3 separate regions of the Homo sapiens genome follow, and regions 2 and 3 are each linked to region 1. The links come from fine-mapping of genetic effects on gene expression. A gene starts in region 1. Each other region holds a variant in brackets. All regions are shown on one strand. Distances are between the middles of the regions.

Evidence for each region. PIP is the estimated chance that this variant, and not a neighbour inherited with it, causes the effect.
Region 2: its variant is the best candidate, but not a certain one, in a credible set for the expression of TTL in gastroesophageal junction (GTEx, PIP 0.89).
Region 3: its variant is the best candidate, but not a certain one, in a credible set for the expression of TTL in whole blood (INTERVAL, PIP 0.60).

The regions. Positions count from the first base shown.
Region 1 is chr2:112,479,871-112,484,111 of GRCh38, forward strand. It overlaps TTL (tubulin tyrosine ligase), which reads left to right and starts at 2,286. Exons shown (of 7, transcript NM_153712.5): 1 at 2,286-2,631. The coding sequence starts at 2,475. RefSeq lists an enhancer at 1,617-1,686 and silencers at 2,007-2,396, 2,957-3,056.
Region 2 is chr2:111,818,556-111,822,796 of GRCh38, forward strand. It overlaps ANAPC1 (anaphase promoting complex subunit 1), which reads right to left. Exons shown (of 48, transcript NM_022662.4): 25 at 3,867-4,045; 26 at 2,684-2,898; 27 at 285-403. Among named protein-coding and RNA genes, the nearest start is that of MIR4771-2, 50 kb to the left of the region's middle. The variant C/T (reference allele first, on the strand shown) is at 1,824.
Region 3 is chr2:112,523,004-112,527,244 of GRCh38, forward strand. All of the region lies in intron 6 of TTL (tubulin tyrosine ligase), which reads left to right. Among named protein-coding and RNA genes, the nearest start is that of POLR1B, 17 kb to the right of the region's middle. The variant C/T (reference allele first, on the strand shown) is at 2,268.

The DNA.
Region 1 (4,241 bases):
TCCCACACAGATAGTGTTCCATCAGATTGGTCTGATTTGGACCAGTTTCCTACGTTTTACCAGTCGCTGTGGCAAAAGGGATAGAGAGTAATCCTGTTGGACCAAGCCTGGATATTCATTTCCTTTATCAATAACAGACACTGTTAATCCCACAAGAGCCACAAAAAATGGGTTCCAAGGGGGTCAGGCGCTGCGGCTCATGCCTGTAATCCCAGCACTTTGGGAGACCAAGGCGGGCAGATCACTTGAGGTCAGGAGTTGGGAGATCAGTCTGGCCAATATGGTGAAACCCTGTCTCTACCAAAAATATAAAAAGTAGCCAGGCATAGTGGCCTGTGCCTGTAGTCCCAGCTACTCAGGAGGGTGAGGCAGGAGAATCTCTTGAAACCCGGAGGTGGAAGTTGCCGTGAGCTGAGATCACGCCATTGCACTCCAGCCTGGGCGACAGTGCAAGACTCCCTAACAGACACACACACACACACACACACACACACACACACACGTTCCAAGGAGGAAAGATGAGTTACCTTACAAAGAAAAGGGAATAAGCTGGGTGTGGTGGCTCACGCCTGTAATCCCAACAGTTTGGGAGGCTGAGGTGGGAGGATGGCTTGAGTTGAGGAGTTCGAGACCAGCCTGGGCAATATGGTGAGACCCTGTCTCAAAAAAAAGTGGGGTGGGGAATAAGTAGTACCGTACAGAACCTACAGCTAAAAGAAACAAAAATGGTGCTCGCTACAAAAAGTGAGAAAAAGGAAAAAGGTAGCTTCTGGATTTGGAAATTCAAAGGTCACTGGTGTTCCTAATGAGATCCACGGTTGTGGAGTGGCAGAGAGAAGCCACCTGTGGCACAGGAGTCGTCAGTAGGAGTCGCAGGAGGAATTGATGCAGCATGGTGGGAGTGGACGTCACTTTCAAGGTGATCAGCCGTGAAGAGCGGCAAACACAGCGTCTTGGCTCGAGTTCCCCCAAACGGTGCCCCCTGGAACAAGAATTTGAGCACGAGTACAGTAGTTTTTTTGGGAGGTGATCCCAGGAAACATCGGTAGTCAGGGAAAGGAAGGAAGCCAACAGAAGATGCCCTGATGAGCAAGTTGCAGCTGTGGACAACCGCAGCCGTGGCCTACAGAGGACCACCGCAATACGCCTAGGACACACGCCTCCCCGCAGGGCACGTGCGGAGGGCGAGAGGGCCAGGGCATTCTCGACCAACTCTATCCCTCGTGGAGGGAGAGCAGCTGGGAAGGAGTGCAAGCACCCAGCACCTCTAAGTCTGCCCCATTTCTGCTCTGAGCGGGCTCTCCACAGCCAGCGGTTGCCTGCAGGTGGAGCCGGTGCGCAAGACAGGCGAGTGAGCGCCTGGCGGCCCCGTGGAATCTGGGCAACGATGGGAAGGAGAAGGGCGCTTTTACAATGTGCTCGGGTAGATACCGTGAGCATCGGGGGACAGGAAGGGGAGAGGCCCCAGGGTGTTCTTTATCTACAGGAGAGTAAAAGATGCAAGGCGCAGGGCTGATGTGGGTAATTTATGAGGGACTGTAGGAAGTTTGGGGGAGCTCTGATGATCATTGCCTTCTCTTTGTATCTCAAATGCAGCAGCACAGTCTTCAGAGTGGGCTATCAGAACCGAAGGGACTTTTAAGAGCCACTCTCCGCCGCTCATAAGGGGAAATCGAGGTCCGGAGAAGGGAAAGCAAGTGGCTGAATGCCGGTAAAAGGCAGGAAAAGAGCGGAGCCCAGGGCTCCAGGGGGTCGGTTTGGGACCTGCTTCCACCAGCAGAGTCTAAGGTCATCCCCTTGGCCGTGCGCCACCCTGGGCTCAGCCGAAGGAAGGAGCACTCGACACAAACAAAACCGACGCTCCGGGTCTCCGTAGTCGTTAAGCAAAGAGGAAGAGGAAGCGCTTCTTCATTAGGCCACAGGACCGGGCCTTAGAACTTTTGGGTTTTATCCATTAAAGGTCCTTTGGCAATAGAAGAAAAACCCAGATCGAGCCCTGCAAACTGGGATCTTCCGCCGGCACCGCCCCCCGGCTGCGACCCGGGGCTCGGAAAGAACCACCCCAGGCCCGGGCTCCGGTTCCACCGCACAGTCCGCCCGCTGCGGTAAAGCCGCGCCCACCGCCGCGGGTCTCCAACCCTGCGCCGCCGCCGCCCCCGGGGGAGGGTACGGAAAGGGCGCGGCGCCGCCGCCCACGGGCTCCTCCAGAGCGCGGCGGGGCCGGGCCGCGCGGAATCACGGGACAGAGGCGGGGCCGCGCCGGCGGGGGCGGGCGTGCGAGCGGCGCTTTCCTCTCCGGCACCCGGCGGGCGCCCGGGCGCGGCGCCGCCGGCACCCGAGAGGCGCGGTAGCCGGCGCGGGCGGCGGGGGCCGGGCCGCGGCGGGCGCCCGGGCGGGGTCCGCGCTGAGCCGCCTTCTCGGCCGCCTGGTCCCTGCGGCGGCTGCCCGGCGGCCCGGGCGCGCGGCGCTTCGCCATGTACACCTTCGTGGTACGCGATGAGAACAGCAGCGTCTACGCCGAGGTCTCCCGGCTGCTCCTCGCCACCGGCCACTGGAAGAGGCTGCGGCGAGACAACCCCAGATTCAACCTGATGCTGGGAGAGAGGAATCGGCTGCCCTTCGGGAGACTGGGTGAGCCCCTCCCCGATTCCCGTCTGCCCTCCTCGGAGCGGCCCTGCGCGCCTCCCGCGGCCCGTTAGAACCGGCGCTTTTGTTTTTAAAGGTCATACATTTTCTCCTCTGTCGCTTGTCGGGCACATCAGAAACGGATTCGGAAAGATCGAAACCTGTCGTTTTTAATGCTTTCTTGTCTCCTAACTTGGATTTAGAGTCGGAGTCGCGGTGCGGCCACTCGGGGCCGCAGCTACCTCCCGACGGTGACCGGTCCCTGCAGCCCGGGAGACGCTGGCCGCCGGGGCTGGGACCTGAGGCGCGAGTCTAGCGGCTCCCCCGGGCCGAAGCCCCCAGATTTGGCGGGTCCGCCGCGCTGGGCGCGGCTCCGCAGAGCGGGCGGCTGGAGTCATCTTTTGCAGCTCGTCTGCACTGAGGATTTCTCCCTGCTTGGCGTGGGCGCGGGCGGGGGAGCCGTAGGTGTTGAAACCCCTGAGGCTTCTGCCCCCCGAAGGCGCGGAGGAGCGATCAGAGGATTTGGAAAAGACCCCCGGATTCCAAAAGCAGGAGCTGCAGAAGAGACCCTAGCCCAGGGAAGTGTGGAGGGATGTCTGATTATAAACCTTTCCTTAGTTTCACCAAATAATGTGTTTTCGCAGTTCTGCATTGGATTAAGATCTTACACGAGGCTGCGTTCGCCCTCCCTGTCTTCCCTGCTCTCCCCGAGGGAATTACCTTCATCCACATGGTTGAAGCTGGCTGGGCACCACCATACCCACATGTCCACGGGTAGGAAAGCGCAGGAGATAGGAGGGGACTAGCGGCTCCTTTGTAAGTGATGTCATCCAGAAGTTGCCCAGATCGGTTCAACTCACATCCTATTGACCTGAGCATAGTCTCATGGCCTCCCTCTCTGCACAGTCATCTGGGAATTGCATCTTCTCTCCGGGGAGCCATGTTCCTTGCCAGAATTCACCAGAGGTGGGGGCCAATTGTATTCCAAAGACAAGGGGAGAATCGATACGGAGGAAGAGTCACCTCTACCTTGGAGGGCAACCCAGAGAGAGCAATGTTCTATGTCCAGGAGAGAAAACAGTTTTTAGAAATAGGTGTGGTCAGAATTCAAATGGGTAAAAACTGAATACGGGCCATTTGGAATTGACTGGTCATTTATGAGCTTCCATAGACAGAGCCTTTGGGAGGGGGCTGTGTAAAACTCAAATCGTTGGAGGAATGAAGAGCTGCAGTGTAAAGTTGCTGGATTTTCTTCTTTTGAATAGTACCTGGGACAACTTTTCATTGGTATACAAGTTTATGATGTAGAATGGTGACTCCATGGAAGGACCCATTTGAACACCCAGAAATCTTAGAATATGGAGACTGTGCCTGGAGGCTCCCTTTGGTTAACCGGTGTCAGGAAGACCCTAGCAAAGAGAATTCATGATCTGAAAGGAGAGGAAGAATTGCTTATAGTTGAGAACAATTATTTGTTCCTTGCATTGTCCACTTCCCCTTCCAGACTTCCTGACTTCCCTCTATATTCTTGGCAGTGCCTAGCTGTGAAAGCTTAGGTGGAATCATAACATTAAAAACAACAAACATGGCTCCGCCCAGGCAGAGGTAGGAGTGAC
Region 2 (4,241 bases), 660 kb before region 1:
ATCGTTATCAATAATATCTTTCTGAACTTCTCCAAGTGACTTTTTAGATCTTAAAATCACCTCATTAAAAAGCAAAAATGAGTAATGAACTATATTCTGCTTCTCTCAAAGTTTAGTTTCACATGGCATTTGAGCTTTGATAACCACTACAGCAGCTATTAGGAAAATTTTAAATCACTGGGGATAGAGGGAGCATTTCTTTTGTTTTAACTAATTTAAAGAACTACACTTAATGCATGTACTTAATCATTTTCCTTTCTCATTGAGCCCAGAATTTAACATACCAGTCAGATTCAATTTAGGAATAGGCAATGGCTCTGTTGGAACAGGATGGTACGAAAACAAGGTAAACATTCCTCGTCCTACAGGAAGAGCCATAGTTCGCTGACACAATTGGAGCAATCTGTAATTAAAGTAAAAACCAACATATGAAAATGTTTAAAGCAAAGAGCAATTGAAATATCATCTGTAAGTATTTCAAAAGAAGGTGTACTGTATAAGATGAAGTTGTCTCAAAGTAAATTCATACACAGATGTGAGTGAACTACCCAAACATGATTATTTTCATTTTAATATTCTTGTTCCTATTACACTCTTAGGGAGAGACATATTTCCTCTGTTTTGTTTCATATTTACATTGAATGAAAACCACCTGGCCTATAAACCCAGCCGACTCTCTCTAGGCATTCAAAAAAAAAAAGAAATTTAAAATTCCACTCCGATGGATGCTAACCTTCTCAAAGGAAAATACAGTACTTTTGGGGTTTTTATCACTGTGTTAATTTCAGTCTAGCTGTCCTCAGTACATGTGGGATCCTCCTCCCATCCCTTTTGCCAATACAGCCTCAGAAGTACCATTTCTGTGGCCTGTACACAAGAAAAGAAACAAGGTCCTTGTGTTAGAGGTGAATGGATTTCATGGTGTCTCCAAGGGAAATACAGATTGGTTTCACTTACATGATGGCTAGATTTATAGGACTAATACCATTATGTATCAGGTATGTTCAAGGTTAAAATGGTTTCTGTTGGCTCTACTGTGAAATTAATACACCACTCTTCAACTTCTTCCTATGTTAAAATAGCTTAACATTCCATATAGCCACTTAAAAAAAACTAACAGAAATTTTGGAAGTAGGGCATTTATAACTAAGAAACGCCTATACAAGCTATATCTGAAGACACAGAAATATCCCTTCAGAGGCTGACAACTGACAAACATTTTCTCTGCAGACAAAGCTATTCATAAGCATACTCCCTCCTTAACTGGACACACATAACTGCTTTTCTAGCTAACTGGAAAGAAAAATTTTGCTGTCTTAAAGATTCTCTGGGAACACAACCGCAACATTAATTTGGGATCAGGAAAATTCAAAGCCAAGAGGCTGTTGCAACCCATAGAATTTTTTTAGAGGAAATCTTACACATAATTCACTTCAACTTTGCGCAAGTAACAAAATTATAATGAGAACAATATTATATCCCCTGAATATAAGATGCCACTGATAAGATGTATCATTATTTCATGAGAAACTAAGAAAGAAAAAGCACTGCCAATTAAACTATGACACCTGTTCACTGAAATACACAACTGATTTCAGAGATATTAAAAAGTGAAAAAACTTGCATCTTAGAATCAATGAACTCTACTACTAATAATGGCTGACTGCACTGAGCTTTACTATGTATTGAGCAGTATTCTAAGTGCTATGTAAAAATAATTCACTTGATACACAGCACCATCCCATGAAGTATGCCTACTTTTACAAATGAAGCAACTGAGGCAACAAGAGGTAAAGTAATTTAACCAAAGTCACCCAGCACAG[C/T]ATGGCCATGCCTGGCTCTAGAGGCCATGCTCATAAATCCTATGCTCTAAACTCAACTTCTGTCACTCCATCTTTTTATTCACAGGTGACTAATAACTGGGTACATGTGGAGAGGAAACAGTTAATAGGGAAATCACAACTAATTCAGATCTTCAGCAGCCTGTGGCTAAGTGTGGGTGATGGTTCCCCTCAAAACAGTACCATAAAAAAAGTAAAGAGAACTAGAAAACAGTGGCAGATGAATGATAGATGATAGAGACAAGCAGATAAAAGAACAGGAGAGAATTTTAAAACAGAAGTGTCCCAAGAGAATAGCTCTGGAATGTCATAGGCATGTGAGTCTTATAATGTATCAAGGGATGTATCCTGTGCAGGGGAGTGGCAGAAGAAAGGCTTATCTATTTTTATTTGGAGTATCATCTATCATATCCAAAAAAAAAAAATACTCATACAAGTTTAAACTACACTAAAAACCCCACTAACCTCAAAATCTATTCCTGATCAAGACACAGAAAAACAAGTCCAGTGTTTTCTTTGTTTGTAAATTCTTAAGGTAACTATCAGGCAAAATAGTTTTACATTCACCTTTTCTAAAGAGTAAAGTGTTATATGTATTTCAAGAGGAGGACGATATGAAATACAACAATTACGTCCTCAAAAGCCAAAGACATTTTGCTAACACACGTGGTTTGTTGAAGTTGGATGAAAACTTAAAACACAGGGCATATTTTCACTTGAAAGTATCTTTTAAATCTCTTTAGGGTTTTAAATGCTAAAAACTTGAAGGAAAAACAAATATACACAAGACACAAATGTAACAATGAAACATGACAAGAGATAGTGCACGTGTTTTCTTTCACCTGTTTTCCTTTTCCTCGATGAACTCGTGGTCACTGAGCTCTGGGTACTGCACTACGTTGACACGGACAGGATGCGCACTCTGAAGAAGCCTTCGCACATCCTGCACCCTTAAATCTTCACTCCATATTAATGACATGACCTCGTGATTCATGTCATTCATGCCGTCATCTTCCTCCTCAGTTTCTGTTCCTGAAGGAACATCTGATGAGAGCACCTGAGTAACAGACTTTATTGTAATAATAATTTCAAAAGCAGTTAACATGCACTTGCTGAACATGAGGATATATAGGCTGATGTGTCTTGACTATACTAGCACAGAGAAAATATGTTTTCCAAAGCAGGCATGGGTTGGAGCCGCAATGTATACTGGGACTCTAATCTACAAATCTTTCTAAAAAGTACTATATTGCTGGCCGGGTGTGGTGGCTCACACTCTGTAATCCCAGCACTTTGGGAGGCCGAGGTGGGCGGATCACCCGAGGCCAGGGGTTCCAGACCAGCCTGGCCAACATGGTGAGGATGATTTAAAAAGATAATTGGAGAGTAATGAAATAATTTAACTTTCTACTTGCAGGATTCCTAGAACTCATTTGAAAAAAAAAACAGACTTGATGATTGATGAAAGACAGTATTTCGGGAGGGATAGCTTAAGACATGTTTTTAAACAACTCTACTGAAAAAAACACATTTTTTCCCTGGGGCTGCAGTTTTATGTGATTAAACAAATATGTTTACACCTATTTAAAAGGTTAAATTCAAAAAATTCAACACATCAAAAAATATGCAGTAGAAAATATTTATATATAATTACTCATCCAAATTCAGGATATATGTGCTCTCCCTTTTCCTATGTAATAATTACAAAGTGGTTAATTACTAATATGGTACAAGTAGGGAAATAGCCATGGTAGTTTCCATGACTACCCTCAGGACTTGTCCTGATTCAAGGCAAAGAAAGATCCAGGCACAAGACAGAACATTCACAAAATCTCCTGCTCCTAATGCTCATCTTAACAATTAATAAGACGCGTACAATTACAAACCCCGTCTGGCATATAATATAAAAGACAAGCTAATATATATACTTAGAAAAAGCCTTAAAGGAAAATGAAGAACATTTCTACTTTATGATTTTATTTAAGGCTAAAATTGGAACTCTGAACTTTCTATGTTGATACTCACAGACTTCCCTTTGGGTAAGTTTCCTTCGCAGGCCTGCTTGGAAAGATCCTGACGTCCAATCAAGAGACAGACAGCTTCTGGCCAGTCTGAGGCAGGCTGCTCACGACAGTGATAAATTGCATCTCTGATGGGAAGAGCAATTCCAAAGGGAAGAGTTTCCAAATCTCTTAAAGTGAATCCTAATGGTTAAAGGAAGAGAGAAAAATTTTAATTTAGACTCGCCACTGTCCCAATTATCCTGACTGAAGTTGGCAACAATATCTATCCTGACAAATAAGTTCATTTTATTCATCTTACTACCAGACTAATGTCTTGACATCAAGGACTAGTATAGGAAGTCTCTTTGAAAGAACTTGTAAAAACCTGAAGAAAAAA
Region 3 (4,241 bases), 43 kb after region 1:
CCATTGCACCTAGGACACAAACCAGACTCCTCCCTCCACCTCCAAGGCCGCTGCCTTACCCACCTCTCCAGCTTCATCCCAAGTCACCATTTCCCTTGATTGCTCTTATCTGCAGTGGGCCTTTGTGCTTTCTGTTACCTGTGTGTGGAATCCCCACCACCATTACCACCACCACCACCAGCCTTACCGTGGCTGGCTTCTTCTTTACCAAAACATCTTGAGGAAGCTTTCTCTGAACAGTCCTAGCTCTGATTTTCTCTAGGCAGAGCCTTTGCAGTTTCCTTCATTGCACTAACTGCCATCAGATTAACTCATCAGAAGAAACTGTCTGTGGGTGTGTGTGTGTCTGTGTGTGTGTGTGTGTGTGTGTATCCGCCCCTTCTTCTTTATTTCTACCCTGTCATCCATTCTCTGTCTGCCTTCTATTCATTGGGTCTTGGCTTAGCTGCCACTGGAAAGTCTTCCCCTGTCACTGGGGAGTCTTCCTCTGTCACTGGGGAGTCTTCCTCTGTCACTGGGGAGTCTTCCCGTGTCACTGGGGAGTCTTCTCCAGTGTCCCTTCAATTATGCTGAGTTGGTCCTTTTCCTGGGTAGGGCCTGCCCCTGTCTGTAATGCAAGGTGGCTCTTACATGCTCTTGAAATGCCTGCCTTCCCTGCCAGTTGTGTGCCTTGTTCACCTGCAAGGCCTTCCATAAGTATTTGCTGAGGGAATGCTTTATCTTCGTGCAAAGGCTTCTGAAGCATCTGTATATACAGTGGCAACCAGTTTTTTTTTTTCTTTATTTTTTTGACATTTTGTTATTATTATACTTTAAGTTCTAGGGTACATGTGCACAATGTGTAGGTTTGTTACATATGTATACATGTGCCATGTTGGTGTGCTGTACCCATTAACTCATCATTTACATTAGGTATAACTCCTAATGTTATCCTTCCCCCATCCCCCAACCCCACAACAGGCCCTGGTGTGTGATGTTCCCCATCCTACGTCCAAGTGGTCTCATTGTTCAGTTCCCACCTATGAGTGAGAACATGCAGTGTTTTGTTTTCTATCCCTGTGATAGTTTGCTCAGAATGATGGTTTCCAGCTTCATCCATGTCCCTACAAAGGACATGAACTCGTCCTTTCTTATGGCTGCATAGTATTCCATGGTATATATGTGCCACATTTTCTTAATCCAGTCTATCATTGATGGACATTTGGGTTGGTTCCAAGTCTTTGCTATTGTGAATAGTGCTACAATAAACATACATGTGCATGTGTCTTTATAGCAGCATGATTTATAATCCTTTGGGTATATACCCAGTAATGGGATGGCTGGGTCAAATGGTATTTCTAGTTCTAGATCGTTGAGGAATCGCCACACTGTCTTCTGCAATGGTTGAACTAGTTTACAGCCCCACCAACAGTGTAAAAGTGTTCCTATTTCTCCACATCCTCTCCAGCACCTGTTGCTTCCTGACTTTTTAATGATCACCATTCTAACTGGTGTGAGATGGTATCTCATTGTGGTTTTGATTTGCATTTCTCTGATGGCCAGTGATGAGCATTTTTTCATGTGTCTTTTGGCTGCATAAATGTCTTCTTTTGAGAAGCGTCTGTTCATATCCTTTGCCCACTTTTTGATGGGGTTGTTTGATTTTTTCTTGTAAATTTGTTTAAGTTCTTTGTAGATTCTGGATATCAGCCCTTTGTCAGATGGGTAGATTGTAAAAATTTTCTCCCATTCTGTAGGTTGCCTGTTTGCTGATGGTAGTTTCTTTTGCTGTGCAGAAGCTCTTTAGTTTAATTAGATCCCATTTGTCAATTTTTGCTTTTGTTGCCATTGCTTTTGGTGTTTTAGACATGAAGTCCTTTCCCATGCCTATGTCCTGAATGGTATTGCCTAGGTTTTCTTCTAGGGTTTTTATGGTTTTACATCTAACATTTAAGTCATTAATGCGTCCTGAATTAATTTTTGTATAAGGTGTAAGGAAGGGATCCAGTTTCAGCTTTCTATGTATGGCTAGCCAGTTTTCCCAGCACCATTTATTAAATAGGGAATCCTTTCCTCATTTCTTGTTTTTATCAGGTTTGTCAAACATCAGGTGGTTGTAGATGTGTGACATTATTTCTGAGGGCTCTGTTCTGTTCCATTGGTCTATATCTCTGTTTTGGTACCAGTACCATGCTGTTTTGGTTACTGTAGCCTTGTAGTATAGTTTGAAGTCAGGTAGGGTGATGCCTCCAGCTTTGTTCTTTTGGCTTAGGATTGTCTTGGCAATG[C/T]GGGCTCTTTTTTGGTTCCATATGAACTTTAAAGTAGTTTTTTCCAATTCTGTGAAGAAAGTCATTGGTAGCTTGATGGGGATGGCATTGAATCTATAAATTACCTTGGGTAGTATGGCCATTTTCACAACATTGATTCTTCCTATCCATGAGCATGGAATGGTCTTCCATTTGTTTGTGTCCTCTTTTATTTCGTTGAGCAGCGGTTTGTAGTTCTCCTTGAAGAGGTCCTTTACATCCCTTGTAAGTTGGATTATTGGTATTTTATTCTCTCTGAAGCAGTTGTGAATGGGAGTTCACTCATGATTTGGCTGTTTGTCTGTTATTGGTTTATAGGAATGCTTGTGATTTTTGCACATCAATTTTGTATCCTGAGACTTTGCTGAAGTTGCTTATCAGCTTAAGGAGATTTTGGGCTGAGATGATGGGGTTTTCTAAATATACAATCATGTCATCGGCAAACAGGGACAATTTGACTTCCTTTTTTCCTAATTGAATACCCTTTATTTCTTTCTCCTGCCTGATTGCCCTGGCCAGAACTTCCAACACTATGTTGAATAGGAGTGGTGAGAGAGGGCATCCCTGTCTTGTGCCAGTTTTCAAAGGGAATGCTTCCAGTTTTTGCCCATTCAGTATGATATTGGCTGTGGGTTTGTCATAGATAGCTCTTATTATTTTGAGATATGTCCCATCAATACCTAGTTTATTGAGAGTTTTTAGCATGAAGGTTGTTGAATTTTGTCAAAGGCCTTTTCTGCATCTATTGAGATAATCATGTGGTTTTTGTCTTTGGTTCTGTTTATATGATGGATTACGTTTATTGATTTGCATATGTTGAACCAGCCTTGCATCCCAGGGATGAAGCCCACTTGATCATGGTGGATAAGCTTTTTGATGTGCTGCTGGATTTAGTTTGCCAGTATTTTGTTGAGGATTTTTGCATCGATGTTCATCAGGGATATTGGTCTAAAATTGTCTTTTTTTTGTTGTGTCTCTGCCAGGCTTTGGTGTCAGGATGATGCTGGCCTCATAAAATGAGTTAGGGAGGAGTCCCTCTTTTTCTGTTGATTGGAATAGTTTCAGAAGGAATGGTACCAGCTCCTCTTTGTACCTCTGGTAGAATTTGGCTGTGAATCCATCTGGTCCTGGACTTTTTTTGGTTGGTAGGCTATTAATTATTGCCTCAATTTCAGAGCCAGTTATTGGTCTATTCAGGGATTCAACTTCTTCCTTGTTTAGTCTTGGGAGGGTGTATGTGTCCAGGAATTTATCCATTTCTTCTAGATTTTCTAGTTTATTTGTGTAGAGGTGTTTATAGTATTTTCTGATGGTAGTTTGTCTTTCTGTGGGATCAGTGGTGATAACCCCTTTATCATTTTTTATTGCGTCTATTTGATTCTTCTCTCTTTTCTTCTTTATTAGTCTTGCTAGCGGTCTATCAGTTTTGTTGATCTTTTCAAAAAACCAGCTCCTGGATTCATTGATTTTTTGAAGGGTTTTTTGTGTCTCTATCTCCTTCAGTTCTGCTCTGATCTTAGTTATTTCTTGCCTTCTGCTAGCTTTTGAATGTGTTTGCTCTTGCTTCTCTAGTTCTTTTAATTGTGAAGTTAGGGTATCAATTTTAGATCTTTCCTGCTTTCTCTTGTGGGCATTTAGTGCTATAAATTTCTGTCTACCCACTGCTTTAAATGTGTCCCAGAGATTCTGGTATGTTGTGGCTTTGTTCTCATTGGTTTCAAAGAACATCTTTATTTCTGCCTTCACTTCGTTATGTACCCAGTAGTTATTCAGGAGCAGGTTGTTCTGTTTCCATGTAGTTGAGCGGTTTTGAGTGAGTTTCTTAATCCTGATTTCTAGTTTGATTGCACTGTGGTCTGGGAGACAGTTTGTTATAATTTCTGTTCTTTTACATTTGCTGAGGAGTGCTTTACTTCCAATTATGTGGTCGCTTTACTTCCAATTATGTGGTCAATT